Homo sapiens: one gene and its partners. The protein of the gene in region 1 purifies or fractionates together with the protein of each later gene. This does not show direct contact. Each region holds a gene or a part of one and is shown in the gene's direction. Other genes may lie near its edges. The genes, in order: CDK17, PPP2R5E, C12orf43 and PPP2R3A.

Evidence for each region.
Region 2: the proteins of CDK17 (region 1) and PPP2R5E purify together in Homo sapiens (affinity purification with mass spectrometry; 3 studies listed by BioGRID and IntAct, with this or other methods). This does not show direct contact.
Region 3: the proteins of CDK17 (region 1) and C12orf43 purify together in Homo sapiens (affinity purification with mass spectrometry; 2 studies listed by BioGRID and IntAct, with this or other methods). This does not show direct contact.
Region 4: the proteins of CDK17 (region 1) and PPP2R3A purify together in Homo sapiens (affinity purification with mass spectrometry; 3 studies listed by BioGRID and IntAct, with this or other methods). This does not show direct contact.

What each region holds. Positions count from the first base shown.
Region 1 is NC_000012.12:96,390,044-96,397,439, reverse strand, and holds part of CDK17 (cyclin-dependent kinase 17), read left to right. Parts: intron 1-7,396. UniProt on the Homo sapiens protein: May play a role in terminally differentiated neurons. Has a Ser/Thr-phosphorylating activity for histone H1.
Region 2 is NC_000014.9:63,533,326-63,540,721, reverse strand, and holds part of PPP2R5E (serine/threonine-protein phosphatase 2A 56 kDa regulatory subunit epsilon isoform), read left to right. Parts: intron 1-1,028; exon of another isoform or gene 1,029-1,029; 5' UTR 1,030-1,036; coding exon 1,037-1,193; intron 1,194-7,396. UniProt on the Homo sapiens protein: The B regulatory subunit might modulate substrate selectivity and catalytic activity, and might also direct the localization of the catalytic enzyme to a particular subcellular compartment.
Region 3 is NC_000012.12:121,013,286-121,020,939, reverse strand, and holds the start of C12orf43 (protein CUSTOS), read left to right. Parts: upstream 1-4,452; 5' UTR 4,453-4,465; coding exon 4,466-4,610; exon of another isoform or gene 4,611-4,674; coding exon of another isoform or gene 4,675-4,681; intron 4,682-7,654. Other genes in the region: OASL (2'-5'-oligoadenylate synthase-like protein), read left to right, coding at 1-379. UniProt on the Homo sapiens protein: Plays a role in the regulation of Wnt signaling pathway during early development.
Region 4 is NC_000003.12:136,101,670-136,109,065, forward strand, and holds part of PPP2R3A (serine/threonine-protein phosphatase 2A regulatory subunit B'' subunit alpha), read left to right. Parts: intron 1-337; coding exon 338-513; intron 514-1,588; coding exon 1,589-1,707; intron 1,708-4,546; coding exon 4,547-4,653; intron 4,654-7,396. UniProt on the Homo sapiens protein: The B regulatory subunit might modulate substrate selectivity and catalytic activity, and might also direct the localization of the catalytic enzyme to a particular subcellular compartment.

The sequences.
Region 1 (7,396 bases):
ATGTACTCTGGTTACCAGAATGAAAAAACAAAAAGAGATACATACATAGTAAGGAAACATGAAATTGGAGGAATTGATCCCCATGTGTATTGCAGCTTCATATACCAGTAGTCTCTAATAAGTCATTGCTTTAATAAAAAAAAAAATAGAAAATTTAAATTTTATTTGCCCGGTAGCACAGGGATAGCTATGTTGACTAAGCGCAGATTTTAACGTATATGTTTGTTGATATATTTAGTTTTCAGATACCAGTTCAGTCCTACAATTATGGCGAAACTAGATGGCATATAAAATCATTTTGTTGCTTTGTTGAGGCTTGTTTTTTTCCTTATTTTCAGCAATATTTTCCTTCTTTCCTTTCACTGAAAAACAATGCAACTATTTTATTTTGAACAATGGAAGCTGTAATGGCAACTGGGGTAGCTATTCAAAAGTGGAGATGACGATGTCCCTTAATATTATAACAGTTATCTGTGAACACAAAAATTTTTACCCTATGATTTTCTTTGTTATTGTCTACTAATGCTGAATATTTATAAGACATTACATTTTGAATCTTTATTGATGTTTCCTAGTCTTTAGAAAATTTTACCGTCATGGGCTAGCATTCTTTTACATGGCATTTAGATTTCCAGGATGTTCTTTGTATTTTTTGTTTGTTTGTTTGTTTTGTTTGTTTTAGACTTTCAGGATGGATAATTACTTTATTGCTATATTGTAAAAATTATATTCTCTAGGGAATTTTACCTGTTTAAAAAATTGTCTCAGTTTTCATACATGGGAAGGATGAATAGTTTTAGGTTCTTTTGAATTTTGAATGGATAATTTTTGCCTAAACTTTTAAACAGGAAATCGGTATTTAAAGTATATTTCATAAAGTGATAATGGCATTTTGCATTTTAAATGCAGAAGATAAACAATAGGTTTATGGCATTTAAAAATGTGCTTTATGTAGCATTTTTGAAGTTAAAAAAACTGCCTGTAATAGCGAACCTAGTGTAGTTCACTAGCATTCAATCTACAATGTTGGCAATTTCTTTGAACTGATGGGGAGAGGACCAGTTAGACTGGCTTTTAAGAATTTTTATTGTCATCAGTGGATTCTTTGTCATTATTTTGCTTCCAATATAGTTAGTTGGTGGTTACTTTTGATATCTGCAAAATATTGACCTGGCAAGAGGAATTGCCAAGGGCCAGAGAAGTGTATTGAATATACCTCAGTGTAGTTTATTGTTCCCAGCCTGTCTGCCTCTCCCTGTTGGCCAACATGGAAAATCAATAGACATCTACCAGTAAATCTAATAAGTAATGTTACCGTGTTCTGCAGTAACCTGCAATACTGAATACTGTTTGAGGATGTAGATTTACAGATCTATGGCATATTGGGATGAGGTGAAAATTATCTTGCTCTCCAAAGTCTCCTTTTGAAAATATTTTTTGATATCACCTTATTTTACTTGGGGTACTATAACAAAATACCATACATTGAGGTGGCTTAAAACACAGACGTATTTTCTCACAGGTCCGGGGCTGGAAGTCTGAAATCAGCTAAGCACCTGCCCTCTCAGCTGTCTTCTCCCTGGGCACTCTTAAGTCCTTTCCTCCCTGTCTGCAGGTGAAGTGGGAGGGAGGGGAGGGAGAGGTGAGGATGTCTTTTTCTTTTCTACTTAAAAGGGCACAAATCCCGTCATGAGAGGGTCTCACTCTTAGGACCTAATCTAAACCTAATTACTTCCCAAAGGTCCACCTCTAATAGCCATCACACTGGGAGGTTTGGACTTCAACATGTGAATTTTGGGGGTACACAGATCTTCAGTCCATAACATAAACTTTGTGAAAGAAATTAACGTTAATTATTTACCTCCTCTACTAGGCACTATGCTAAGTATTATTTTGTGAAATCCTCACAATAAGCGCTTCATATAGGTATTCTGCCTGTTTTCAAATGAAGAAACAAAGACCTTAGGTTAAGTCATTGTTTCCAGGGACCGACCTCTGTGGTAACATTGACATTCCAGTTTAGGCATTCAAACCACTACTCTACACTGTCTCCATGAGGATGAGATGTTAAAAAGTCAATGTTACTGTCTGCACTCTATAAACAATGAGTGAGATATTAGAAAAGCTCATCAAAATGCGATTTAAAGTACATTGAACTGGTTTTACTACATTAAAAGATTGCAGTATATAAAATATGTAAGGTAGGACATGTTGCTCAAAATGAATTAAAAATCAAGATGCTAAAAAAATTTAAAACATTTATATGGGCGAGGCATGGTGGCTCACGCCTGTAATCCCAGCACTTTGAGAGGCTGAGCCGGGCAGATCACAAGGTCAAGAGTTCCAGTCCGGCCTGGCCAACATGGTGAAACCCGGTCTCTACTAAGAATACAAAAATTAGCTGGGCACGGTGGTGCATGCCTGTAATCCCAGCTACTCGGGAGGCTGAGGCAGGAGAATTGCTTGAACTTGGGAGGCAGAGGTTGCAGTGAGCCAAGATCGCACCATTGCACTCTAGCCTGGCGACAGAGCAAGACTCTGTCTCGGGGGAAAAAAATTATAGATTTTTTGAATAAATAATAAATAAAAATAAAATAATAAATATTTTTTGTCTACCTTTTTTTTTTCTTTTTTTTTTTTTGAGACGGAGTCTCTCCCTCAGTTGGCCCAGGCTGGAGTGCAGTGTTGCAGTTGCGTGATCTCAAGCTATTCTCGTGCCTCAGCCTCCGGAGTAGCTGGGACCACAGGTGGTGTGAGCTTCCACGTCCAACTAAATTTTGTATTTTTAGTAGAGATGGGTTTTCACCATGTTGGCCAGGCTGGTCTCGAACTCCTGACCTCAGGTGATCTGTGCACCTCGGTCTCCCAAAGTGCTGGGATTACACGTATGAGACACCGTACCCGTGCTTCTCTACCTTTTAATAACACATTTTTGTTTCTTTTTATGCATTTGTTAGTGTAAATATGTTCAAGAATACTCTACATTTTGTGTACATGTTTGTAAACAAGGGAAAAGGACCCAAAGATAATTTCTCTTTCATTGTATTCTAGTTCAGTTACTAACTTTGGCCTTCTCAAGTCATATTAATCTACTATTCTTATAATTGATGGGTAATGTTTGTTATTAGTATGTGTTAATATTCAATAATGTAAACAACGTTGGTAAATACTTGTGAGAAATTTTTTTTTTTTTTGAGATGGAGTCTCACTCTGTTGCCCAGGCTGGAGTGCAGTGGCGTGATCTTGGCTCACTGCAACCTCCGCCTCCCGGGTTCAAGTGATTCTCCTGCCTCAGCCTCCCGAGTAGCTGGGATTACAGGCGTGCACCACCATGTCCAGCTAATTTTTGTATTTTTAGTAGAGATAGGGTTTCACCATGTTGGCCAGGCTGGTCTTGAGCTCCTGACCTCATGATCTGCCTGCCTTGGCCTCCCAAAGTGCTGGGATTACAGGTGTGAGCCACTGCACCTGGTCTATACTTGTGAGAAACTATCAAGTAACAGCATTGAAGCCCTTATCACTCCAAATTTAGACTTGCTCTTCTTTAAATTAGTTAATATGTGTTTTTTAGTATTATTTTAGAATAAACATTTTTTGAAGTATAACAACTTAGATTTTAGTATTTTATATTATTGACTTGTAATGTTATTTCTGGTGGAAAAAGAAGCTTTTCATTGAGTATGTGTGTGTGTGTTTGTGTTTGTTAAGATACAGGGTCTCACTCTGCCACCCAGGTTGATTGCAGTGGTGTGATCACTGCTTCTTGTAGCCTTGATCTCTGGGGCTCCAGTGATCCTCCCACCTCAGCCTCCCAAATAGCTGGGACTACAGGTTCAGCGCCACCAGTCTTGGCTAAGTTTTGTGTTTTTAGTAGAGATGGGGTTTTGCCATATTGCCCAAGCTGTTCTTGAACTCCTGAGCTCAAGCAATCTGCCTGCCTCAGCCTCCCAAAGTGCTGGAATTACAGGTGTGAGCCACTGTGCCCAGATTTTTTACTGATTCTGAAGTAAAATTGGATTCCTTAGACTTAAGCACCTTGAGTCTGACCTATTAAATTAGCTTTTTTTTTTTTTTTTTTTTTTTTTGAGGCGGAGCCTCACAGGCTGGAGTACAATGGCACAATCTTGGCTCACTGCAACCTCCACCTCCCGGGTTCAAGCGATTCTCCCTGCCTCAGCCTCTCGAGTAGGTGGAATTACAGGTGTCTGCCACTATGCCCTGCTAATTTTTGTAGTTTTTAGTAGAGATGAGGTTTCACTATCTTGGCCAGGCTGGTGTTGAACTCCTGACCTCGTGATCCACCCGCCTCAGCTTCCCAAAGTGCTGGGATTACAGGTGTGAGCCACTGTGCCTGGCCTTAAATTGGTTTTAAGAAGTGGTCCTTTATGTCTCAATTTGAGTTAATAAATTTAATTTTTCAATTAACTCAGGTTTGCAGTTGGTATTTTTAAAGCATTTGTTACGTCCTCAATATTGTATTAGCCGTTATCTGTGTTGTAACAATATAATTTAATGTGGCAATATTGTAACATATAAGATAACAGCAATGTTGGTTGTCTGAGTATTCTGTCCACAGCCTTCTTTCCAGGTTTTATGTGTTCCTGGCAATCTGGTCTATATTTAGGGCTTTGTTCTCATCACCCATATGCAATAATCTCCACCTCTTTATTTCTAATCTAGACCTCTTTTTCTGAGTTGCATTCCAGCTTCCTACTCGATATTGCCTTAGTGCTCCCTTACCTAAACTGAACTCGAATCCCCTATTTCTGTTCCCAATTTCAGTGAATGGTACCACTGTCAGCCTAGTCACGTAAGCCAAAAACTTTGGCAGCTTCTTTCTTACGCTTTTCTGTTATGCTCATTTCCCCTTAGTCCAGTTAGTCACACCAAGTCCTGTTAATTTTAATTCCTAAATATCTTTTAAATTTATTTTTTCCTGTGTCACTTTCTTACGTAAGGGTTTTGGAATGTCTTATCTGATTTACTGGCTCCAGTTTTGTCCCATTTTAATCTAACCATATTCTTTCTTTATGTTTATATATGTATCTTATTTTATCCTTTTTTCCGTACTGCCGTCCATTCATCCATCCATGTCTGAAGTACCTGCCTACTCTGTACTAGACACTATGGTAGGGGCTAGGATACAAAGATGAAGAAACTGGTATGTTGATATTACAATGCTATGACACTTGTAGAGAAATTCTCATTTTTAAGCCCAAACGTCTCTTTCTCCAACGTGATCTTTGTTCCATTCTGACAGTTATGGTGGTTCTGCTATATAGTATTTATGTATACTGTAGTACTTAATATGTTATGTTGTAATTAATTATTTTCAGGTCTCTCCCTCTTTTGGCTGGCGTTGTGCTCCAGAGAGGCCGTGTTTTTTTTCATTTCTGTATTTCTTCCCGTATTATCATACTCTTAAATTGAATAAAGTGATGGAATTAGGAGGAACAACACCGAGTTGGTAAATTAAGGTCAGAGTAGGCTTAGAAGCAATCAAGAATACATTTTGATATAGTAGATAATAAAAAGTGTAAAAGGTTTCAAATATTGGAGCTATACAGTTTTGGTGGTATTTGTGTGAGAGCAATCTAGAGCAGTTTGTAGGCCAACTTGGAGGGACAGTAACTTGGCATTATTGAGACTGTTTAATTGCATGTGAGCTGTACTAACTTGTTAGTGAAAATGGAGAGAAAAGGGGTGTGGCCTTCAAAGATTGTTGTCTTTTAGACAAAATGGAAATATAAAATTATAATGTTAATATGTAAAGAAAGTACTCATTTCTGAAGGTCTAAAAATATTGGTCAGTGTATCAGGAGTAAAATTTGGTTTAACCGAAAAAAACTGGCCTGCCGCGGTGGCTCACGCCTGTAATCCCAGCACTTTGGGAGGCCAAGGCGGTCAGATCACTTGAGGTCAGGGGTTCGAGACCAGCCTGGGCAACATGGCGAAACCCCATCTCTACTAAAAATACAAAAAATTAGCCGGGCGTGGTGGCTCAGGCCTGTAATTCCAGCTACCTGGGAGGCTGAGGCATGAGAATTGCTTGAACCCGGGAGGTGAAAGTTGTAGTGAGCTGAGATCACACCACTGCACTCCAACCTGAGTGACAGAGTGAGACTCTGTTTCAAAAAAAAAAAGAAAAAAAAAATCAAAAACAAAACAACCCCCCGCCCCAAAATCGTCCTTAATGAAATCTAGCTATTTAACTGTGTAGTATTGGCTTAAATGCGCTTACTGCAGTGCAGAATTGTACTCAAAGGATCAAACAGTGCATTTAATGTTATTCATTCTGCTGTGGTAGTTTATGTATACAGTTGACTAGAAGCTTTGTTTTTCTTTTTTTTTTTGAGATGGAGTCTCCCTCTGTCGTTTAGGTTGGAGTGCAGTGGTGCAATCTCAGCTCACTACAACCTCCACCTCCCGGGTTCAGTAAATTCTCCTGTCTCAGCCTCCCGAGTAGCTGGGATTATAGGCGTGTGCCACCATGCCTGGCTAATTTTTGTATTTTTAGTAGTGTTGGCCAGGCTGGTCTCTAACTCCTGAGCTCAGGTAATCCACCCACCTTGGCCACCCAAAGTGTTGGGATTACAGGTTTGAGCCGCCACACCCAGCCTTGTTTTTAAATGGAATTACAGTAATTAAATAAAAACTGTTCCATGGTCTACTTTTAAACTTGAAGGATTTTTTTTCTTTTTCTTTTCTGTCTTTTTTTTTTTTTTTTTTTTGAGATGGAGTCTCACCCCATCGTCCAGGCTGGAGTGCAGTGGTGCGATCTCTGCTAACTGCAATCTCCACCTCCCAGGTTCAGGCGATTCTCCTGCCTCACCCTCCTGAGCAGCTGGGACTACAGGTGCACGCCATTGTGTCTGGCTAATCTTTGTATTTTTAGTGGAGACCATGTTTCACCATGTTGGGCAGGCTGGTCTTGAACTCCTGAGCTCAGGTGATCCACCCACCTAGGCCTCCCAAAGTGCTGGGATTAAAGGCGTGAGCCACCGCACCTGGCCAAGGCTTTTTTAAAATGCCTGTAATCCCAGCACTTTGGGAGGCCTAGGTGGGTGGATCGCCTGAGCTCAGGAGTTCGAGACCACCCTGGTCAACATGATGAAACCCGTCTCTACTAAAAAATACAAAAAAATTAGCCGGGCGTGTTGGCACGTGCCTGAAGGGAGGAGAATCACTCGAACCTGGGAGGTGGAGGTTGCAGTAAGCTGACATCGCCACACTGCACTCCAGCCTGGGCGACAGAGCAAGACTCCATCTCAAAAAAAAAAAAAAAATTGAGTTTTAAATTATACCTCTTTTCAGCCGGGCGCGCTGTCTCACACTTGTAATCCCAGCACTTTGGGAGGCTGAGGCAGGCGGATTATGAGGTCAGGATATCAAGACC
Region 2 (7,396 bases), on another chromosome or scaffold:
AGAAGGAGTTTTCCTCTTGCTGCCCAGGCTGGAGTGCAATGGCATGATCTTGGCTCACCACAACTCCGCCTCCCGGGTTCAAGTGATTCTCCTGCCTCAGCCTCCCGAGTAGCTGGGATTACAGGCATGCGCCACCATGCCTGGCTAATTTTTGTATTTTTTTTTTTTTATTAGAGATGGGGTTTCTCCATGTTGGTCAGGCTGGTCTCGAACTCCCAACCTGAAGTTATCTGCCCGCCTTGGGATTACGGGTGTGTGCCACTGTGCCTGGCTTTTTTTTTTTTTTTTTTTGAGATGGACTCTTGCTCTGTTGCCCAGGCTGGAGTGCAGTGGTGCCATCTTGGCTCACCGCAACCTCCGCCTCCCAGGTTCAAGCGGTTCTCCCTTCTCAGCCTCTTGAGTAGCTGAGATTACAGGTGCATGCCACTGCGCCTGGCTAATTTTTGTATTTTTAGTAGACACAGGGTTTCACCATGTTGGCCAGGCTAGTCTCGAACTCCTGACCTCAAGTGATCCACCCACCTCGGCCTCCCAAAGTGCTGGGATTACAGGTGTGAGCCACCGGGCCCAGCCCTTTTTTTTTTTTTTTTTAAAGGACGGAATCTCACTCTGTCACTCAGGCTGGATGGAGTGCAATGGCGGGATCCTGGCCCACTGCAACCTCCACCTCCCAGGTTCAAGCGATTCTTTCACCTCAGCCTCCCGGGTAGCTGAGATTACAAGCACCTGCCATCATGCCCGGCTAATTTTTGTAATTTTGTAGAGACTGAATTTCACCATGTTGTCCAGGTTGGTCTTGAACTCCTGACCTCAAGTGATCCACCCATCTCAGCCTCCCAAAGTGCTGGGATTACAGGCGTGAGCCATTGCACCTGGCCAAGATAAGACTTTTCTTAACTGATTTTATTTTCTTTAGCACATATTCCCATTTTCATGAATATTGTATATGGGAATTTTAGAATTTGTATAACTCACATGTATGCTTCCACCTTGGGAATGTATGGGTTTATGATACTTCTTTCTCTTCAGTAGGGATATGTCCTCAGCACCAACTACTCCTCCATCAGTGGATAAAGTAGACGGATTTTCTCGGAAGTCCGTCAGAAAAGCCAGACAGAAGAGGTCGCAAAGTTCCTCACAGTTTAGGTCTCAAGGCAAGCCTATTGAGTTAACACCTCTGCCGCTGCTAAAAGGTAAGGCTCATGACCAGGTGATGCATTCTTTTTCAATTGATCTTTCTACATCTATATATAATTTCCTTTTTGTAGAGTTTTATATGTGTTGCAAATTGAAGGGATGGGATACTTCACATACATTGAAGTTACTAATGTGTGACCAAATATACCCACTCTCCTTTTTAAAGGCTCAATTTAGTCTGTCTTTGGGCAAGTTAAAAGAAACATTATCAGGAGAATATCTCACATTGATGAGTAGGTAAACTAAGTACTAGAGAAACTTTAAGATGTCTGGGTTTGTGTTTTTCATTTTTTCTTCTGTTGACGTTTAGGGATACATTATATACAATGACAACTACAGATTATGGTCTTAGGAAGTAGACCCTAGTAGAGGAGATGGTACCATTCATTAATTTACATATAGAAAATGGTATTTGGAAGAATTCGTTTTTAAAAATCAAGAAAAAAATGGTCCATTTATAGTTGTTTACATGCACTCTTGTTTTCACATAGTACAAGTAGAAAAGATATACCTTTCTATGTACAAGTATGATGATCATACTTGTTTAGTATGATCTTTTCTTTGAAATTTGTTAATTTTTTAATTTTAATTTTTATCTTTTGAGATAGAGTCTCCCTCTGTTGCTCAGGCTGGTTCACAGCAACCTCCACCTCCTGGGTTCAAGTGATTTTCCTGCCTCAGCTTCCCGAGTAGCTGGGAGCACAGGTGCCCGCCACCATGCCCAGCTAATTTTTGTATTTTTAATAGAGACAGGGTTTCACCATGTTGGTCAGGCTGGTCTTGAACTCCTGACCCCAAGTGATCTGCCCACCTTGACCTCCCAAAGTGCTGGGATTACAGGTGTGAGCCACCGTGCCTGGCCTGAAATTTGTTAAAAACAAGTTTTTTGGTTTTTTAAATTTTCTTTTGAGACAATCTCATGCTGTCACTCTGGCTAGAGTTCAGTGGGGACAGAGTGAAAGTGCAGGTTGAGGCCGGGCGTGGTGGCTCACGCCTGTAATCCCAGCACTTTGGGAGCCCGAGGCAGGCAGATCACGAGGTCAGGAGTTTGAGACCAGCCTGGCCAACATGGTGAAACCCTGTCTCTTCTAAAAATACAAAAATTAGGCGCGGTGGTGGCACCTGTAATCCCAGCTACTCGGGAAGCCGAGGCAGGAGAATTGCTTGAACCGGGAGGCAGAGGTTGAAGTGAGCCCAGATCGTGCCATTGCATTCTAGCCTGGGTGACAGAGCAAGACTCTGTCTCGGGGGAAAAAAAAAAAAGAAAGTGCAGGTTGGGGCTCACTGTGGCCTCTATTTCCTAGGCTCAAGTGATCCTCCCTTTCCCGAGTAGCCGGGATCAACTTCCCGAGTAGCTGGGACTACAGAAGCATGCCATCACGCCCAGCTAATTTTTCCATTTTTTTGTAGAGATGGAGTTTTGCCATGTTGCACAGGCTGGTCTCGAATTGCCATGGTGTTCCCATGCCAGGATTTAGGCGTGAGCCACCATGCCCGGCCCAACACGTTTTTAATATGAAGAATTTTTTCTAAATTAGGCATTTCAACTTTTGTTTGGGTATGTGGTTACTTTTTGTCCCTTTTAATTTTCATCATGTTTGCTTCATGTTTATGAACAGGTGTTGTTTGAAAAATATCAGAACATAGCTTTTATAGTGTGGAAACTATCAGAATTTACCTTTGAGGTGGATGTTTATGTGCTGAATACTGAAGAATGGGAGAAAGGGGATATGAACAACACAATGAGCTTTAGTGTGGCTTGGAGGAAACCAGGCAACCTGGTTTGCTAGTTCATTATTGCAGACTTATTTCTGTAACAGTTTGTGAAATCAGAAGGTATTATAAGAAAAACTGGAATGTAACCGGAAAAGATCCTCAAAATTTAGCTTAGGATATTTCAAGCTTCTATTTTTTCCATATGAATACTTTTTTTAAAAAAGAGAGAGAGATTCATAAATAAGATTCCAATGTTTATACAAAATTTTTGGAAACTGAATACTGATTACTGTAAAGATGATATATCTACCAGTCAGTAAAGATGAGCTCCTGTGAGCTTTGGGGGAGAAAATTTTGACTAGAGATTTTGCTGGTAAAAATGAAAATAGTCATTATGAGGCTTTGGAAAGAAAATGTAGGAAACACTGTAGATTGAACTATGCTTGAAATACAAAGTTGGGAGACACTGGTTTTTAGTAATCTATTTAATCTGAAGTAGATATGTAATGGGTGTTAACTTCTGTATCTGTAAAGGACTTCATTCTGAGGAAGCCAGTTAAATTTTTTTTTTTAGAATTAGAAGGAATTTAAAAACTTACACTAATTTCTTGGATCTTATGGTAAACAATTAAATTAGGACTTCACTGACCACTCATAGTCAGGGTATTGGTTTTGTGGGTAGTGAAAGAAGCATGCATGAGAAGAATTTGGACACATGCTTTAATGTATTTTTTCTTTAATGCTTTCATGTCTTTTTTCTCATTTTAAAAAATTATGGTAAAATATACATAACATGAAATTTACCATCTTAACCATGTTTAAATGTGCATTAAGTGCCTTGACATTGTCATGCAACTGTCCCTACCATCCATCTCCAGAACCTTTTCATCTTCCCCAACTGAAGCTCTGTACCTGTTAAACACTGACTCCCTGTTTCCCCCACCAGCCCTTGGCAACCGCCATTCTGTTTTTTGTTTCTATGAATTTGACTACTCTAGGTACCTCCTATAAGTGATGCCATGCAATATTTGTCTTTTTGTGACTGGCTTATTTCACTTAGTCAAGTGTCTTCAGTGTTCATCTCTGTTGTAGCAGGTGTCAGAATTTCATTCTTTTTTAAGGCTGAATAATTTCAGTGTATATACATACCATATACTTTTTAATCCATTAATTCATTGGTGGACACTTGGGTTGCTTCCACCTTCAGGCTATTGTGAATAATGCTGCTGTGACCATGATGTACAGATACCTGTTTAAGTTCTGGCTTTCATTTCTTTTGGGTATGTACCCAGACGTGTAATTGCTGGATCATATGTTGAATTTTTCAGGAATTGCCATACATATTGCCACAGCAACTGGACCATTTTTCATTCCCATTAGCAATGCATGAGGGTTCCAGTTTTCTATATCCTCACCATCACTCATTTTCTGCTTTTTAATTTTTTGATAGTAGTCATTATAATAGGTATGAAGTGGTATTTCAGTGTGATTTTTATTTGCATTGCCCTAATGATTAGTGATGTTGAGCATCTTTTCCTGTGCTTTTTGGCCATTTCTGTATCCTTTTTCTCACTTTTAAAAGTGAAGTCTGCTAGTGTTGCCAGTTTTCCAAGAACTCTGCTTTCCAAGAATGTGATTTTTTGAACTTGTATATTTTGCCAGTATGAGAGAATTGGAGAGTAACAGGACTATATACTCACAAACCTAATTCCAGAGTGACTAACAGTGATTGTTATGTAGTAAGCACATTCTGGGTAAATACTCTGGAAAGTATTCTATAAATTAGAAATCCATCTCTGTCTGTAGAATAACATAAGGAAGTATAATCAGAAATAGACTTCAGTAATGTGTATTTGCTCTTGATTTTCTAGGAAGTAATTTATGGAATATAAAGAAAATGTAGGAGGAATTTCTTTTCTAGGATTTTATTTTTTTTGGCCATTGCCTTAAGAGAAACCAGGATAAACACTATATGCATGCTAAGGGTAGTTATTGATTTAATTTTCTATAGTATTGCTTTGACTAAATTGGGTTAATTTTATTTGGAGTACAATATAAAATATGGTTGAATTTTGTGAGTTGTTTTAAATAATGAAGTCAAAGAGGTGTCCTTAAGGTCTTTAATTTCAGGGGAGTTTGAATACGATAATTATACAAACAGTGATTATGTAACTCATCTTTTAATATGTCATTTTTGAATGCTCAGATATGCATTAATAACCACTCGTTTTGTGCATGCATTATCAGAATGTTTATTATATGCATCATAATCTTTGATTTATAAATAATACTGCATTAATTCTTAGCGTTTTAAAGTCTGTTCACTTGCAAAACTGCAACATAATGTGAAGGGAAAGTTTTTGTTTTGCCCTATTTCTTTTTTTTTTGAGATGGAGTTTTGCTCTTGTTGCCCAGGCTGGAGTACAGTGGTGCGATCTCAGCTCACTGCAACCTCTGCCTCTTGGTTCAAGTGATTCTCTTGCCTCAGGCTCCTGAGTAGCTGGGATTGCAGGTGCCCACCACCACACCAAGCTAATTTTTTTGTATTTTTAGTAGAGACGTGTTGAGACCAGCCAGGCTGGTCTCAAACTCCTGACCTCAGGTGATCCACCTGCCTTGGCCTCCCAAAGTGCTGGGATTACAGGCGTCAGTCACTGCGCCCAGCCTATTTTGCCCTATGTCTAATAGGTGGGGTTTTGAAATCTGTATCACTGATGTTATTTCCTGTAGAAAGCAACACCACCTGTAATTCTGTATAAATCTACCTGGTTTTTCCGTATCTGTGTGTTAGGAAATTATAGGATGAACTTTGCAAAGATAGACATTTACATTTTCTCCATCTTTATATGCTTTTGTGAAAGTGTTCTTGGAGAGCCTTAACATTTTTGAGGCTGGGTATGGTGGCTCACACCTATAATCCCAGCACATAGGGAGACAGAGTTGGGAGGCTCGCTTAAGCCCAAGAGTTTGAGACCAGCCTACGCAACATAGTGAGACCTCATCTGTACAAATAATTTAAAAAATTAGCCAGGGTGGTGGTGTACACCTGTGGTCCCAGCTACTTGGGAGGCTGAGGCAGAAGGATTGCCCGAGCCCAGGAGGCTGAGGCTGCAGTGAGCTGTGATTGTTCCACTGTGTCCAGTGTGGCTGACAGAGTGAGACCTTTGTCTCAAAATAAAAACATTTTTTTCTTTGAGTCTAAAAGATTCTTACTCATTCACTGATAGGGAAAACCTAGTAGAGGTTTAGTGCCTTACTTACTTGATAAGAAAGTAAAATCTTGGGGGAGGCCGACAGGGGGCGGGTCATTTGAGGTCAAGAGTTTGAGACCAGCCTGGCCAACAGGGTAAAACCCCATCTCTGCTAAAAATCCAAAAATTCGTGGATGTAGTGGTGTGCATCTATAATCCCAGCTACTCAGGAGGCTGAGGCAGGAGAATCACTTGACCCCGGGAGGTGGAGGTTGCAGTGAGCTCATATTGTGCCACTATAAACTCTGTCTTAAAAAAAAAAAGAAAGTCAAGACTTGGATACTTTCCTTACACTTACACAGCAGGACATGAAGCAAGCCTTGACTGTTATCTAGGTAAGTTGTTGAGTAAGACAGTCAAACTAAACAGTTAGGCAAACACACAAACACACACACAAATTTATGTTAATAATAATCAGTGGTAGTAGCACCTGGCTGGGTGATTTATGTTCTCTCCTCACCCCAGCCTCCTGTGCCTCATTTCCTTGCGTTGACTTTAAGCAATTCTGTAAGTTTAGATTTGGGTGAACGTTTTCTGAAGAATACTGCCTCTTTGAAGATGGAATTATAGTGAAAGTAGCATTGTTATTTCTTTTGTTTGTTTGTTTTTCTGAGACAGAGTCTCGCTCTGTCACCCAGGCTGGAGTGCAGTGGCGCAATCTCGGCTCACTGCAACCTCTGCCTCCCAGGTTCAAGTGATTCTCCTGCCTCAGCCTGCGGAGAGTAGCTGGGATTACAGGTGTCTGCCACCACATCCGGCTGATTTTTATATTTTTAGTAGAGACGGGGTTTCTCCATGTTGGCCAGGCTGGTCTCGAACTCCTGACCACAGGTGCGTCCGCCTGCCTAGGCCTCCCAAAGTGCTGGGATTCTTGGCATGAGCCACCGCGCCCGGCCGCCATTGTTATTTCTTGTCTCACAATTCATTATACATTTCCGAGGCATTTTGCAGATAGTTTGTACATTCACTTTTAGATATTCTTACAACTATGATGACTAGACGGAGTTTAGCTCTTGTTGCCCAGGCTGGAGTGTAATGGTGCGATCTCGGCTCACCACAGCCTCTGCCTTCCGGGTTCAAGCCATTTTCCTGCCTCAGCCTCCCAAGTAGCTGGGATTACAGGCATGCGCCTCCATGCCCGGCTAATTTTGTATTTTTAGTAGAGATGGGGTTTCTCCATGTTGGTCAGGCTGGTCATGAACTCCTGACCTCAGGTGATCTGCCTGCCTCGG
Region 3 (7,654 bases), about 25 Mb from region 1:
CTCTGGCCTGCAGCGTCTGTCCTTCCAGGTTCCTGGCAGTGAGAGGCAGCTTCTCAGCAGCAGGTGCTCCTTAGCCAAATATGGGATCTTCTCCCACACTCACATCTATCTGCTGGAGACCATCCCCTCCGAGATCCAGGTCTTCGTGAAGAATCCTGATGGTGGGAGCTACGCCTATGCCATCAACCCCAACAGCTTCATCCTGGGTCTGAAGCAGCAGATTGAAGACCAGCAGGGGCTTCCTAAAAAGCAGCAGCAGCTGGAATTCCAAGGCCAAGTCCTGCAGGACTGGTTGGGTCTGGGGATCTATGGCATCCAAGACAGTGACACTCTCATCCTCTCGAAGAAGAAAGGAGAGGCTCTGTTTCCAGCCAGTTAGTTTTCTCTGGGAGACTTCTCTGTACATTTCTGCCATGTACTCCAGAACTCATCCTGTCAATCACTCTGTCCCATTGTCTACTGGGAAGGTCCCAGGTCTTCACCAGTTTTACAATGAGTTATCCCAGGCCAGACGTGGTAGCTCACACCTGTAATCCCAGAACTTTGGGAGGCCGAGGTGGGAGGAGCGCTTGAGCCGAGGAGTTCAAGACCAGCCTGGGTATCACAGGGAGACCCCGTCTCTACAAAATAAAAAAATAATTCACTGGGTGTGGTTGTGCACATTTGTAGTCTCAGGCACTCAAGAAGCTGAGGCAGAAGAATCACTTGAGCCCAGGAGGCTGAAGCTGCAGTGAGCTGTGATCACACCGCTACACTCCTGCCCAGGCCACAGAGCAAGACCCTGTGTCTAAAAACTAAAACATAAAAATAAGTAAATCCGTTTAAAAAAAGGATTATCCCAGCCCTGCCAGGGGGAGGATGAGGAGGGGTGTGAGGACTAAATATACAAATAAATAGTGTGGTCACATGACGCACAGCAACAGAATTCGGACCCACAGCCTTCTGCAGCAATCAACCCCAAACCATCAGGACTTGGGCGATAACTGGCAGCATCTCTAACTCCCCACCCTACTCCCATCCTGCTTCCTATTTATGACCAACCCAAGAAACCCAAATAAGCTCCCCAGACCAATCACATGGTTAGCCCCACTTCTGGTGAGTGCACTTCCAGCTTCCCCATACCAACAGCCTCAATCACGGCATCCCTGAAGCCTTCCCATTTTCCTGCCTGTCTTTAAATCTCTGTCAAAAGCGAGAGATGGGTGGCTGGTTCCTTTGCTATAGCAAGTTGGGAATAAATCGCCTTTGTTAGTTCTCATTTGGGGGCTGTTTATTTCCACAGGGCCTAATGCTGTCCTAATGGTTATTGCTTGATCATTTGAGCTTCTCAACTCTAAGAAATGAGGACTGGGGAAACTGAGGCAAAAAGAGACAAAGAATGGGAGATTGAGGATGATGCAGTGTAAAAAAAAATCACCTCAACTCCTAAAACCCATACACAAACAGTACATAATAGTCAGGAAACTGTAGGAAAGTAATAGCATCTTTATTATCAAAGGACGTCATGTGATCAGGTTTACTCCAAGCAATAAAAAGTTTCCTTTTGCCCCCCTGTTTTGCCTAGTTTTCTGGTGGGCTACTCTCCTACCATAGCATAGAAAATGCACACTGCAATTGGTTATCAACAGCCTCTGGTCAATTTAGCAATCATAATCTGTGTATCTCCCACCTCTGTTTGCCTTCAGGGACAGAAAAAGTGCCTCCTTTCCAGGAGGTAGACAGGCTGTTCCAGTCCCCATCTTTGTGTCCTTCATAATGCCCAGCACAGCCCACATTGTAGGTGGTGGGAAAATTCTTGTTTAAAATAAAAAAAAGAATGAAAAATGCAATGTCTTAGTCCATCTGGGCTGCTAAAACAAAATACCATACACTGGATGGCTCATGAACAATAACCATTTATTTCTTACAGCTCTGGAGGCTGGGAAGTCCAAGTCAAGACACTGGCAGATTTGGTGTCTGGTGAGGACCTCTTCCTGATTCACAGATGGCAGCTTCTCACTAAGTCTTCACATGGTAGAAGAGGCAAAGGTGTCTCTAGGATCGCTTCTTTTTTTTTTTTTTTTTTTTTTTGAGATGGAGTCTCGCTCTGTCACCCAGGCTAGAGTGCATTGGCATGATCTCAGCTCCCTGCAACCTCTGCCTCCGAGGTTCAAGCGATTCTCCTGCCTCAGCCTCCCGAGTAGCTGGGACTACAGGCACCTACCACTGTGCCCAGCTAATTTTTTTTTTATTTTTAGTAGAGACGGGGTTTCACCATCTTGGCCAGGCTAGTCTCGAACTCCTGACCTTGTGATCCACCTGTCTTGGCCTCCCACAGTGCTGGGATTACAGTTGTGAGCCACCATGCCTGGCCTCTGGGGTCTCTTTTATGAAGGCATTGATCCAGTTCATGAGGGCTCAGGACCCATTATGTAATTGAAAGATTCTCCGTGGGGCCTGAAAGCTTAAGAGAATGAATGACCCCTCCCTCCCCTCCCTCCTTGGGCCCGGTCCCAAGGCGCAAGGCCACTCGCGCCAGCAGCATGTGTCAGCAAGATAGCAGAAGCGGGAAGAGAGCGGGCCAGAAGACACCTACCCCCTGAAGACCGAGAGAGACGTCATCCGGGTACAATGTAGCGGTTACAACAGACTGAGAAACTTCCTGTTTACAGGAGACTACAAAACCCCTGCCCCGTCCTCATTTGGTGCTGACGCCATTTTAAGCCTCAGCCCACCTGCACACACACTGCCTCATGTTGTCTGTTGGCCACGCTCTTGGGGTTCGAACCAACACAAGACCCTTTCACTAATTACTTCCCAGAGGTCCCACCTCCTAATACCATCACCTTGGGAGTAAGGACTTTTTGGAAATTATCAGTATCAAAATGGAGTCACTTATGTCAAACCCTAACAAATGCCTGTCACAAAAATTATCTCAAGAAGTTCCTAAAATCCGCAGTATTATAGATAAACCACTTGCATAAGAATATTTGCCTAACAGTGGGTGTCTCCACAATAAGCTAAAGCCAACTCCTGCAACAGGCTCCTGTGATCAACGGTACTTGTTTTAAAGAAGCTTATGTGGACTTTGTCTTTTCTCGTTGCCACAACCTCTTTTAATGTGCCTATAGTCCACTATAGCATGCATATCTCAAATTGCAATTCCTTGCAATTCTGGAATAAACGCTTTATTTTGGAGAGTCAGTCTCTCTGTTATTTATTTTATGGTGTCAATTTTAACATATGAATTTTGGAGGAACACATTCAGACCATATCAGTCACCTTCCTCTTCTTTGAAATAGAAAAAGCTCAAGGCCAGAGAGTTTATTTTAGTAAAGTTTTGACATACCTGTCTTCAAAGATAAAACATGAAACAGCATTCCACACACAAAAGTAAAGTGATTTTGTTCATCCTTCACTGTGAGGTATTTTAACCACAGAGATTCTAATTTTTTGGTCTTGGATGGGTCCTGGGAGTCAGTATTGCCTGGCTAATTTTTGTATTTTTAGTAGAGATGGGGTTTCACCATGTTGGTCAGGCTAGTCTCGAACTCCTGACCTCATGATCTGCCCGCCTCGGCCTCACAAAGTGTTGGGATTACAGATGTGAGCCACCGTGCCCGGACAGGATTCTGCATTTCTCTTTTTTTTTTTTCGAGACAGAGTCTCAGTCTGTTGCCCAGGCTGGAGTGCAGTGGCACGATCTTGGCTCACCTCAACCTCCACCTCCCAGGTTCAAGTGATTTTCCTGCCTCAGCCTCCTGAGTAGCTGGGACTACAGGTGCGTGCCACCATGCCCAGCTAATTTTTGTATTTTTAGTAGAGATGGGGTTTCACTATGTTGGCCAGGCTGGTCTCGAACTCCTGACCTTGTGATCTGCCTGCCTCAGCCCCCCAAAGTGTTGGGATTACAGGCGTGAGCCACCGTGCCCAGCCTGGATTCTGCATTTCTAACGAGCTCCCAGGTGTTACCAATGCTGCTGGCTCATGGACTACACTCTTAAGTAGTAAGGCCCTAGGCTATTAAAGGAAATACAGATTCCTGGATTCCACCTATCAGAGATTCTGATTCTGTTAGTATTTTCTGTGAGACCCAAAAGTCTGCAGTTTAACCAGCTCTCTAAGGTGTTTCTTAGGCCCAGCTGGACTGGGAAATTACTAGAATAAATGACATGGAATCAAAACCTGGGAACTAATCCTGGGTCTGTCATTAACTCCTTAGGAGATTCCCATCCCCTCTGGAGATCTGTCATCAAGAAATGATTGGAGAAGTTAATCTCTTAGGCCCTTCTAGCTCTTGCCTTTGAGAACCGCCCACCTCCCCATTCCCACCTGGTATCCCCAACCCAGTACAGTTCATGGCCAATGGCGGTCCAAGTCTTGGAACTACAATCCCCACAATGCCTCGCGCCTCTCCTCTCACGTGACGTCATGAAGGAGGCTTGATAACGGCGGTGTTCTCCACAATCCTTTGCGGTGGTTCAAGATGGCGGCGCCCAGTGGCACAGTGAGCGATTCGGAAAGTAGTAACAGCAGTAGCGATGCGGAGGAGCTGGAGCGGTGCCGCGAGGCGGCAATGCCGGCTTGGGGCTTGGAGCAACGCCCGCACGTGGCAGGGAAGCCAAGAGCCGGTAGGGTACTATGTTTGGGGAGACTGGCTGAGGGGCGTGGGATCTTCCCCTGGAGCCTGAGAGGATGGATGGTGAGGAGAGAGTCACTGGGACTCGGCTTCCTTCCCCGAGAGACCTCCAGGGACTGGGTGTAGTGCAGATTGAAAGCATGGGCAGGTGCAGTAGGGAGGGTATTTCATTATTCCAGTCGGGGAAGCTGAGGTACCCAAATGTCTTTTGATTCTGCCTCCTTGGGTCTATCCTCACTGCCCCACACTGGGAAGGCTGCCGTCTCTTCGAGATAACTGCAACAGCCCCCTCCCGGTATTCTCGCACCCAGCCTTTCCCCACCTCCAACACATTCTCCCACCCTGGAGGTTGTTGCCAAGAGCAGTGCCCAGCACATCACTCTGACCGTGACTCCCTAGTGCCCTGGGAATAAATACAGAGCCCCGCAACATCAAGGGGCCTAATCATGGATAGAACCCAAGGGTTCTTGAATTTGGAATGAAAACATGTTGCATCTTTGCTTTCTATTCATCTCTGACTGAATTTTAGCATCTCTTTCCGTCTTGCAAGCACTAAGCCACAGTAGTTCTGGCAATGCCGTTACTTTATCCCAACAGAAGTCACAGATTTTCATATCTCATTACAATCTTTGCAGATACAGATATCAATATATCATTTTATTGATAAAAAGATATTGGGGAAAAAAGTCATTTACACTCATCCCTGATTTAAAATGTGCCACTCTAATTTTTAGACCCATCTCTATATCTAAGATGTAAGAAGCACATACATCACAAGTTTGGTTGTTTACTATCATGATAATTAAATTTCGGTATCATTGGTTTTCTTTGTAATCCTGTATGTTGCATTTCATGCATTTAAAACATTGCTCTGAGAAGAGAACCGGGCTTCACCAGGCTGTTAGAGAAGGCTATGGCAAAGCAAGGTTAAGAACCGCTGGATTTGTTTAAAAGGACTTACAAGCCCTTTGGTGATCCATTGCCTTCCTCTCCCTTCCTTCCCTCCTGCCATACTGCACTTCCTGTAGGTAGCTTCCAGACCATAGTCTGCCCCTCTCACCCCCTAGTACCATAACCACAGTTTTCTCTGCAAGTTCTATTTACAGATCTGCCTTTCCATCTCATTAGCGGTGGGAACTTGAGCAAAGTACTTAAATCTCACTGTACCTAAATTTCCTCATCTGTACAGTGCGGGTAGTGATAGTACCCACCCCATAAGGTTGAGAAGTAACTGAGATAATGCAATCTACAGTGCTTGGCACATCTTAAAGGCCCAATACATGGTGGCAAATATGTGGTTGGTCTTTCCACATGGACTGCTTTCCTCCTCCTGCCTAATTCTCGCTCTTTTTTTTTTCAAAACTAGGACTCAGTCTGTTACCGAGGCTGACACAATCATGGCTCACTGCAACCTCGACCTCCCCCTACTCAGATGATCCTCCCACCTCAGCCTCCCAAGTAGCTGAGACTACAGATGTATAGTCCCAGCTACTTTTTGTATTTTTTGTAGAGATGGGGTTTTGCCATGTTGCCCAGGCTGGTCTCGAACTCCTGGGCTCAAGTGATCCTCCCTTCTCAACCTTCAAAGTGCTGAGATTACAGGTGTGAGCCACTGTGCTCGGCTTCTAGTTTTTTTTGTTTGTTTGTTTGTTTTTTGGGGTTTTTTTTTTTTTTTTGCATTTTTTTTTTTTGAGATGGAGTTTCACTCTTGTTGCCCAGGCTGCAGTGCAATGGCACGATCTCAGCTCACTGCAACCTCTGCCTCCTGGGTTCAAGTGATTCTCCTGCCTCAGCCTCCCTAGTAGCTGGGATTACAGGCGCCTGCCACCACGCCCAGCTAATTTTTTGTATTTTTAGTACAGACAGGGTTTCACCGTGTTGGCCAGGCTGGTCTCAAACTCCAGACCTCAGGCAATCCACCTGCCTCGGCCTTCCAAAGTGCTGGGATTACAGGTGTGAGCCACCGCGCCTGGTCTCTTTTTTTCTTTTTGAGACGCAGTCTCGCTCTGTTACCAAGGCTGGAGTGCAATGGCGCGATCTTGGCTCCCTGCAACCTCCGCCTCCCAAGCTCAAGCAATTCTCCTGCCTCAGCCTCCTAAGTAGCTGGGATTACAGGTGCCCACCACCAGGCCCAGCTAATTTTTTTTTATATTTTTATTAGAGACAGGGTTTCACCGTGTTGGCCAGGCTGGTCTCGAACTTATGACCTCAGGTGATCCGCCCACCTTGGCCTCCCAAAGTGCTGAGATTACAGGCATGAGCCACCACACCCAGCCTAGATTACATTCTTGAGTGCGTCTAGTAATAGCCACCAGGAGTTGAGAATTTTCTTTTTGCCCCTGTTCTAAACACTTTGTATTTGTTGTCTGTTTTCATCTTCCCAGCAATGCCACAAGAGGGTGTATTAGCCCCATTTTACAGAAAACTGATTCTCATAATGGTAAAATAACTTGGCCAAGGTTGTCCAATTTGTGAGTGGCAGAACCAGGCGTAAACCCAGGCCTACCTGACTCCCAAGTCCATGCTCTTCATTGCTGCTGTGCCACTCTGCCATGGACAAGTGTCTATTGTGGTCAAAACTCCCACCCTTTGGTCCATGACTGTGGAAATATAGGTCACTATTTTATTTATGTAACCTCTAGAGACAGCTCTTAAATCCAGTGATGAACTCGTCACTCAAACCACTTTAATTTTAGGGTAGCATCTACTTTGACTTATTTTTCTGACAATTAATTCAAACCAAGACACTATGGCAGGATCTGGGGATACAGAGGTAAAAAGAGGCAGACCACGTATTCAAGTAGCTTACAAATCCAGGAAGGGGATGGGTATGGAAACAGCGTCCACAACACTGACTCCAGAAGGTTGGTAATCGTATTCCCATTTTATAGATGAGAAAAACAAAGGCTCAGGGAGAGAAAGTGACTTGCCCGGCATCACACAGCTTGGTGGCAGAGCCAGGACTCAACTGAACTGTCTCCCTCTGTAATACTGTTTCTGTTCCCTGACGGTACCTCACCTTCATCACACTGTAGT
Region 4 (7,396 bases), on another chromosome or scaffold:
CCCACCTCAGTCTCCCAAAGTGCTGGGATTACAGGCATGAGCCACCGTGCCCAGCCTCTAATAATAGTTCTGAAAATAAATACAAGAAAGGAGCGATATAGACGTGTTATCTGAAAATAGGAAGGTAAAAAGCAAAATGGGGTTGAACACGGTTGATTCTGGGTGGAAAAATAAAGGGAAGAAGGGGTCCGCCATTTTCTCTAACAAACTTTGTAAAACTATATCTAAGCCTGAAGTGTATGTAATATGTAACTTTTACTTTAAAAGAAACATACTAAATCTGGATAAATAAAAGGTCTTTACCAGGCCCATGATAATGATTGTCCTTATCATCTAGCATTGAGTATTGGTTCCGCTGCATGGATGTGGATGGAGACGGTGTACTCTCCATGTATGAGCTGGAGTACTTCTATGAGGAGCAGTGTGAACGGATGGAAGCCATGGGAATTGAGCCCTTGCCATTCCATGATTTACTGTGCCAGATGCTTGACCTAGTGAAGCCAGCTGTTGATGGTGAGACCAAGCAATGGGACAGATGCACTGTTCACCTATGTATCAGAGGAGGGCAAAGAATCCTAGATTGTCCTAAATTATTTAACATTTCAGAGTCTTGATAGAAGACTTCCTAGGACAGAAGTGTTTAAAGTTTCTCCTTGACTATTAGTGTAGCAACTTTTTTTTTTTTTTTTTTTTTTGAGATGCAGTCTCGCTTTGTCTGCCAGGCTGGAGTACAATGGTGTGATCTCAGCTCACTGCAACCTCCGCCTCCTGGGTTCAAGTGATTCTCCTGCCTCAGCCTCCCAAGTAGCTGGGACTACAGGCAACCACCACCATGCCCAGCTAATTTTTGTATTTTTAGTAGAGATGGGGTTTCACCATGTTGGCCAGGCTGGTCTCGAACTCCTGACCTCAGGTGATCCACCCACCTCGGTCTCCCAAAGTGCTGGGGTTACAGGCGTGAGTCACCATGCCCAGGCTTAGTGTAGCAATTGATGGCAAGTCTGCTATTTAAGAAATAGGATTTTACACCAGGCACAGTGGTGTATGCCTGTAGTCCCTGCTACTAAGGATGCTGAGGTGGGAGGATTGCATTATGATTGTTCCTGTGAGTAGCCACTGCACTCCAGCCTAGGCAACACAGCGAGACTGTATCTCTTTTTTAAAAAGAAAATGAAAGCGGGGTTTGGGGGATGAAAGAAGATTTTTCCTTAGACACAGAAAGCACATGAGGAGAGATGGGAGGGACTGCTTGATGGGCACAGAGTTTCCTTTTGGGGTGATGATATTATTACAGAACTAGATAGTGGTAATGGTTGTACAACATTGTGAGTGTACTAAAAGCCACTGAATTATGCACTTTAAAATTGTTTAAATGGTGAACTTTATTAGTGAATTTTACCTCAATAAAAGAAATGGGTTTGAGAAATTGATACCCTTGAAAAAAGAAATGAGATTTAAATTTTTTTATTCTGAAAATAGGACTTTTATAATAAACATATACCTATACTTTTAGATGTCAGGGAAAGTTTTTTCCTCTTGCCAAAACAGCTCTTGATGAAATTTACCAGATTTGTTTATTTTTATGTAGGCAAAATAACTCTAAGAGATCTGAAGAGGTGCAGAATGGCTCACATCTTCTATGACACTTTCTTTAATCTGGAGAAATACTTAGACCATGAACAGAGAGATCCCTTTGCGGTCCAGAAGGTAACAGTATAATTTTAACTTTTATTTGAGGGCTGCAGTGTCAGGGGCTGTGTGTGCTACATATTAACATGGTCTCTGCATGCTGGAATTTCGGTAAAGAGGTAACATTTGTAACATTTCATTAAAGACTAAAAAGAGACAATAAAGGACCTCTAGAGCACATGTCTCTCCACAGCCGATCGTCAGGTCTAAGTAACCTGCATCTGTGTAAGCACTTTCCACTGAGCGGACTCTATAGCTCATCTACTGATACACACACTGGAAACAAAAGAGTAGTTTTGAAAAAAAAATTGTCCTTCTAACTTTTAAAAATATATCAATAGGCACATCTGTATTAGAAACTATATTGGCCTTGATTCACTTGTACCATTCATTTCCAGGATTCCATGGTAAGTAGCTTTCCCCATCACGGTAAAAACTAGAGTTCTCCATGATAGAAAACCTTCAAATAATATAACGCCTTTTCACGTGTTAATGATTGCCGTTCATGGCTATCAGTTTTGAATGCATTCTACATCTGAATAAAGCTGAATATCCTTCCCCAGACACACAAACCTGTGGACCCTCAGAAAACCCTATACATACGATCCATGTTAAAAATAAAAACAATGTCACCCCTTGTTCTTACCATTCCTCTAAGAAGTAAAAATTATGTTAAGAACAGACTGTTGCAGTTGAGTAACAGTAAACTATAAGAAGCTTTTGCATTCTTTTTTCTTCTGCATGTTCCATAACTGTTTGACCTAAATAGTAGTAAGAATATGATCACCTTCTAAATAAGATAAATAAGAATTTATCGCCTTCCAAAAACAAATATTCTGCAGCTGACCTCAGCATATCAAGTTGCATTATCGCTGGCTTAAAGTCTGTTATGGTTCATTGAATTTAACATGCTCCATAATTTTATATTTGTTTCTTTCTTTGTGTGTGTGTGTGTGTGTGTGTGTGTGACAGAGTTTCGCTCTTGTTGCCCAGGCTGGAGTGCAATGGTGTGATCTCGGCTCACCGCAACCTCCGCCTCCCGGGTTCAAGTGATTCTCCTGCCTCAGTCTCCTGAGTAACTGGGATTACAGGCATGCACCACCACACCCAGCTAATTTTGTATTTTTTGTACAGACAAGGTTTCTCCATATTGGTCAGGCTGGTCTCGAACTCCCGACCTTAGGTGATCTGCCCACCTAGGCCTCCCAAAGTGCTGGGATTACAGGCGTGAGCTGGCTGTGCCCAGCCTGTTTTATAGTTCTCTAAGCAAAAACAAAACCCCAAACATTGCCAGTTGTAAGCCTATAATGCATTGCAATTTTATAAATGTTAGAAGGATAGAGATGGGGTCTTAAAAGGAGTTAAATATAGTAATTAATAGTGGTCATTGTTTAGGAACTTAACATTATTCTTGGCATAACTAACTCTAGACCCTAGGGCAATACTAACTCATGTTCGGCTTGGAAAGACATTTTATCTGAAACATAAAATTTCAAGAAAATTCACAAAAGTGTGTGGTCTTTTCCCTCTTCACTTATTTTCTTTGTGTTACCATTTTTACTCTAAAAAAATTACCTTTAAATTTTACTTTTTTTAATAAATGGTATAATTATTGATATTTGTTCTGATCTACAAAGAACATTATTAGTCAGTGCTTAATAAATTCTGGGCACTGTGTTGAAGAGATACTGGATATATGGAGATGGCAGAGATACAAGAACAAAAGGTGGCAACCAAAGTATCTACATTAGGAAAAAGGAAGTGATATGGAGAGAAGGGCTGTTTCCAGGAAGCTATCACAGACAGCGTGGTATCTGAGTTGGCTTTTAAAGAACAAAAATTTGCCAGCGAATGGGGGCTTGGGGAAGGTACATTTCAGGCGGGCCTGTGGCAAACCACAAGTCACTCCAGGTGGCTGCTGTGCAAAGTGCCAGAGGAGAGGGGACCAGAGAAATGTCTCTGATTACAAGGCTAAAGAGTAGACTTACCAGGTGCTATGGCTTGTGCTTGTAATCCCAGCTACTTAGGAAGCTAAGACGGGAGGATCACTTGAGGCCAGGGGTTCAAGACCAGCCTGGGCAACATAGTGAGCCCCTGTGTCTACAAAAAAATTTTAAAATTAGCAGGGCATGGTGGTATGCCTGCATTCTCAACTACTTAGTAGGTGGAATGCCTGTAGTCTCAGCTACTCAGTAGGCTGAGGCAGGAGAATCACTTGAGCCCAGATTCTGAGGTTAGCAGTAAGCTATTGGTGCACCACTGCACTCCAGACTAGGCAACAGAGTGAGACCCTATCTCTTTTAAAAAAAAGAGTTGGAATCAGCCAGCCACGGTGGCTCACACCTGTAATCCCAGCACTTTGGGACGCTGAGGCGGGCAGATCACCTGAGGTCAGGAGTTCGAGACCAGCCTGGCCAACATGGCGAAACCCTGTCTCTACAAAATACAAAAATTAGCTGGACGTGGTGGTACTTGCCTGTAGTCCCAGCTACTTGGGAGGCTGAGGCAGGAGAATTGCTTGAACCCAGGAGGCAGAGGCTGCAGTGAGCCGAGATCGTGCCACTATACTCCAGCCTGGGTGACAGAGTGAGATTCTATCTCAAAAAGAAAAAAAAAGAAAAAAGAAAAAAATGGAATCTATACCTAAAAAACCTGGCTGCTAAACAGTTATAATTTTGCCATTTGAGGTGTAGAAAATTACCTTAGGAGTTTTACCTTAGCACCTCTTTTAAACCTGTTGAAATGAAACATTTTTCAGGTAGGATTTTTTCAGCAGTATACATTTGTGTGATGATCTATCTCCAATTCTTTGTCTTTGATTTTTTTTATTTCTCGTGGCTGTCTTCTTTCCAATCAGGATGTTGAGAACGATGGGCCTGAGCCCTCAGACTGGGACCGGTTTGCCGCTGAGGAGTATGAGACGCTTGTTGCAGAGGAATCTGCCCAAGCACAATTCCAGGAAGGGTGAGTAAGTTTCCCTATGTCTTATAGAATTTTTAACAGGAATGCGCATGTCCAGAGTATTAAAACCCCCTTACAAAATCCTTTTCTGTTTTTTCCATTTTTGAATAGCATAAAAATGTGATTTAGCCAACTTTAGTTAAATGATTATTTTTTCCAGCAATCTTCACTCATTTCCTGACAGAGTCTTCTCATGTCCATTTCCTTTAATGAGTCTCATCTTTCACTGGAAACCGAGATCACTGAACAATCAAACTACTGTTTTAGTGATATTGATAAACCCTGTACATAAAGGAGGAGGCTAAAAGAACTAAAGCTCTGGCCGGGCACGGTGGCTCACGCCTGTAATCTCAGCACTTTGGGAGGCCGAGGCGGGTGGATAACCAGAGGTCGGGAGTTTGAAACCAGCCTGACCAACATGGAGAAACCCTGTCTCCACTAAAAATACAAAAAAATTAGCCGGGTATGGTGGTGCATGCCTGTAATCCCAGCTACTTGGAAGGCTGAGGCAGGAGAATCGGCTTTTACCCGGGAGGCAGAGGTTGCAGTGAGCCGAGATCATGCCATTGCACTCCAGCTTGGGCAACAAGAGCAAAACTCCGTCTCCAAAAAAAAAAAAAAAAAAAAAAAAAAAACTAAAGCTCCTTCAATAATAATAAAGATGATCATGTTTAGAACAAATCTTTATTATACATGGTTTTGTGCAGGAAGTAACTTCTACATGTATTTCTACTAGTCAGGGCATAATTCCATAAAGGGACCATGTTAAGAAATTTAATTATCCAAGAATTTGACTCCTTGGATCACTTCAGCAACTTTATAATTTGCTGGTTTTTTCCATCATCTTCTAGTAACTCCTTTTGTAATTCTTCTAATTCTTCCTTAGTCATAGCTTCTGTAAAGGCCTCAATTAATCTTTCTCATTAATGTAGTGTACTTTTTGAACAGGCACTATTCATATAATATTCAAAGAAACAAAAGAAATAGTAAAAAGTTTCCTACTACCCACTTCTCCTCCCCAGAAGCAACAAGTGTCATCATGTTCTTGCTTACTCTTCCAAAGAGCCTCTCTCTCCACCTATCTATGTATATTTAGAAAGATACATGAATTCTTTTTTTTTTTTTTTTTTTTTTTTGAGACAGTCTCAAATGTGGTCTCTGATGTGGTCCATTCAGGTCAGCCTCCTGAGGCATAGAGATAGAGGAAGAGCAGGTCTAGAGGGATAAACAGAAACTATCCAGCCCCATAGATAAAGTCAAATAGTCCTCAATATAGATTGTACCATTTTATACCTCTACCATTCATTAAATATTATCTTTTTTGAGGGTGCTGAACAAGCCATCAGCAAAGAGCTTTCTTTCACTGAGAGATTTCTTTAACCTGCTTAGCCACAAAACTAGGATTTCATTTTTATGGCAGTGACCTGGAAACCCTTAAAATCATTCATCGTGCACTCAGTATCTTAAGCCTGACTGCATCAGAATATAGGAAAATGGATTCACAAGCATGATTTAAAGGTTTTTTTGGCATTGAGCTTCCATACTAGGAATTAGGGTTAGCATACCAATCTTAAGAAGCAACAATGCTGCAGTTAAGAATATGTGTGGATTGGCCAGGCGCAGTCACTCATGGCTGTAATCCCAGCACTTTGGGAGGCTGAGGCAAACAGATCACTTGAGCCCAGGAGTTCGAGACCAGCCTGGGCAATGTGGCGAAACCCCATCTCTACAAAAAATACAAAAGTTAGCCAGGTGTGATGGTGTGTGCCTGTAGTCCCAGCTACTCAGGAGGCTGAGGTGGGAGGATCACTTGAGTATGGGAGGCAGAGGCTGCAGTGAGCTGAGATTATGCCATTGCACTCCAGCCTGGCCTGCAGAGCTAGCTAGACCCTGACACACACACACACAGCAAGTGTGGATGTTTATAATAGTGAAAATTTGGAGGCAATCTAGGTATCTAATGGGAAGATTAATAAAATTATACTACATGTACCCAGTACAGTTCCATTAAGCATTAAAATCATTTTGTGGATGTGTACTTCTGGACTTTAATTAGGAAAAACGGGATGAGGAAGAAGACTATGAAAGATCAAGTAAAATGTAATAGAAAAGAAACAAAAAAAGTATCCAAAAGAAAATTAGGTATAGGTAAGGAAAGCAAATGGGATCTTATTTATGTGTTTTAGACAAAAGAATATATGAAATAGTAAAGTATATTAAAAGACAATAGGAAAGCTTTTTTGAAATAAAAGAAAACCTGAATAGGAAAGGTCAGAAATCACGCCATATCCAGGAAATACTGATAATGAATAGTGATGGACCCCAGATTTGCATTGTGAATTTACTAGAACTCAAGGATGAATAAAGGTTTATCATTGGGTTTTTTTTTTCCAGTTTTAAAAATTCAAGTCACCAGACAACTGGTAAATAAATAAATAAATAAATCAGCATGCCTCAGTAAAATTGAATACTGAAAGACCATGAAACAATGTTTGCAACTTCCTCAGAGAAAGAAGCTCTATACCCAAGAATTTTAGACCAAGCCAAGATGGTATTCAAGCATAAAGATGCTGATAGATATTGTCAAACATACGAGAACTAGAGATTATATAGTACCCAGGAGCTCTTCTTTAAAAAGTACATAATCATAAAACCAAGAGACAAGCCAAAATAAAAAGCCGGAAATGAGCAGCCATGGTAGAAAAGAAATAATAGTGAGCATTCAATCCATTTAAATGTAGAAATG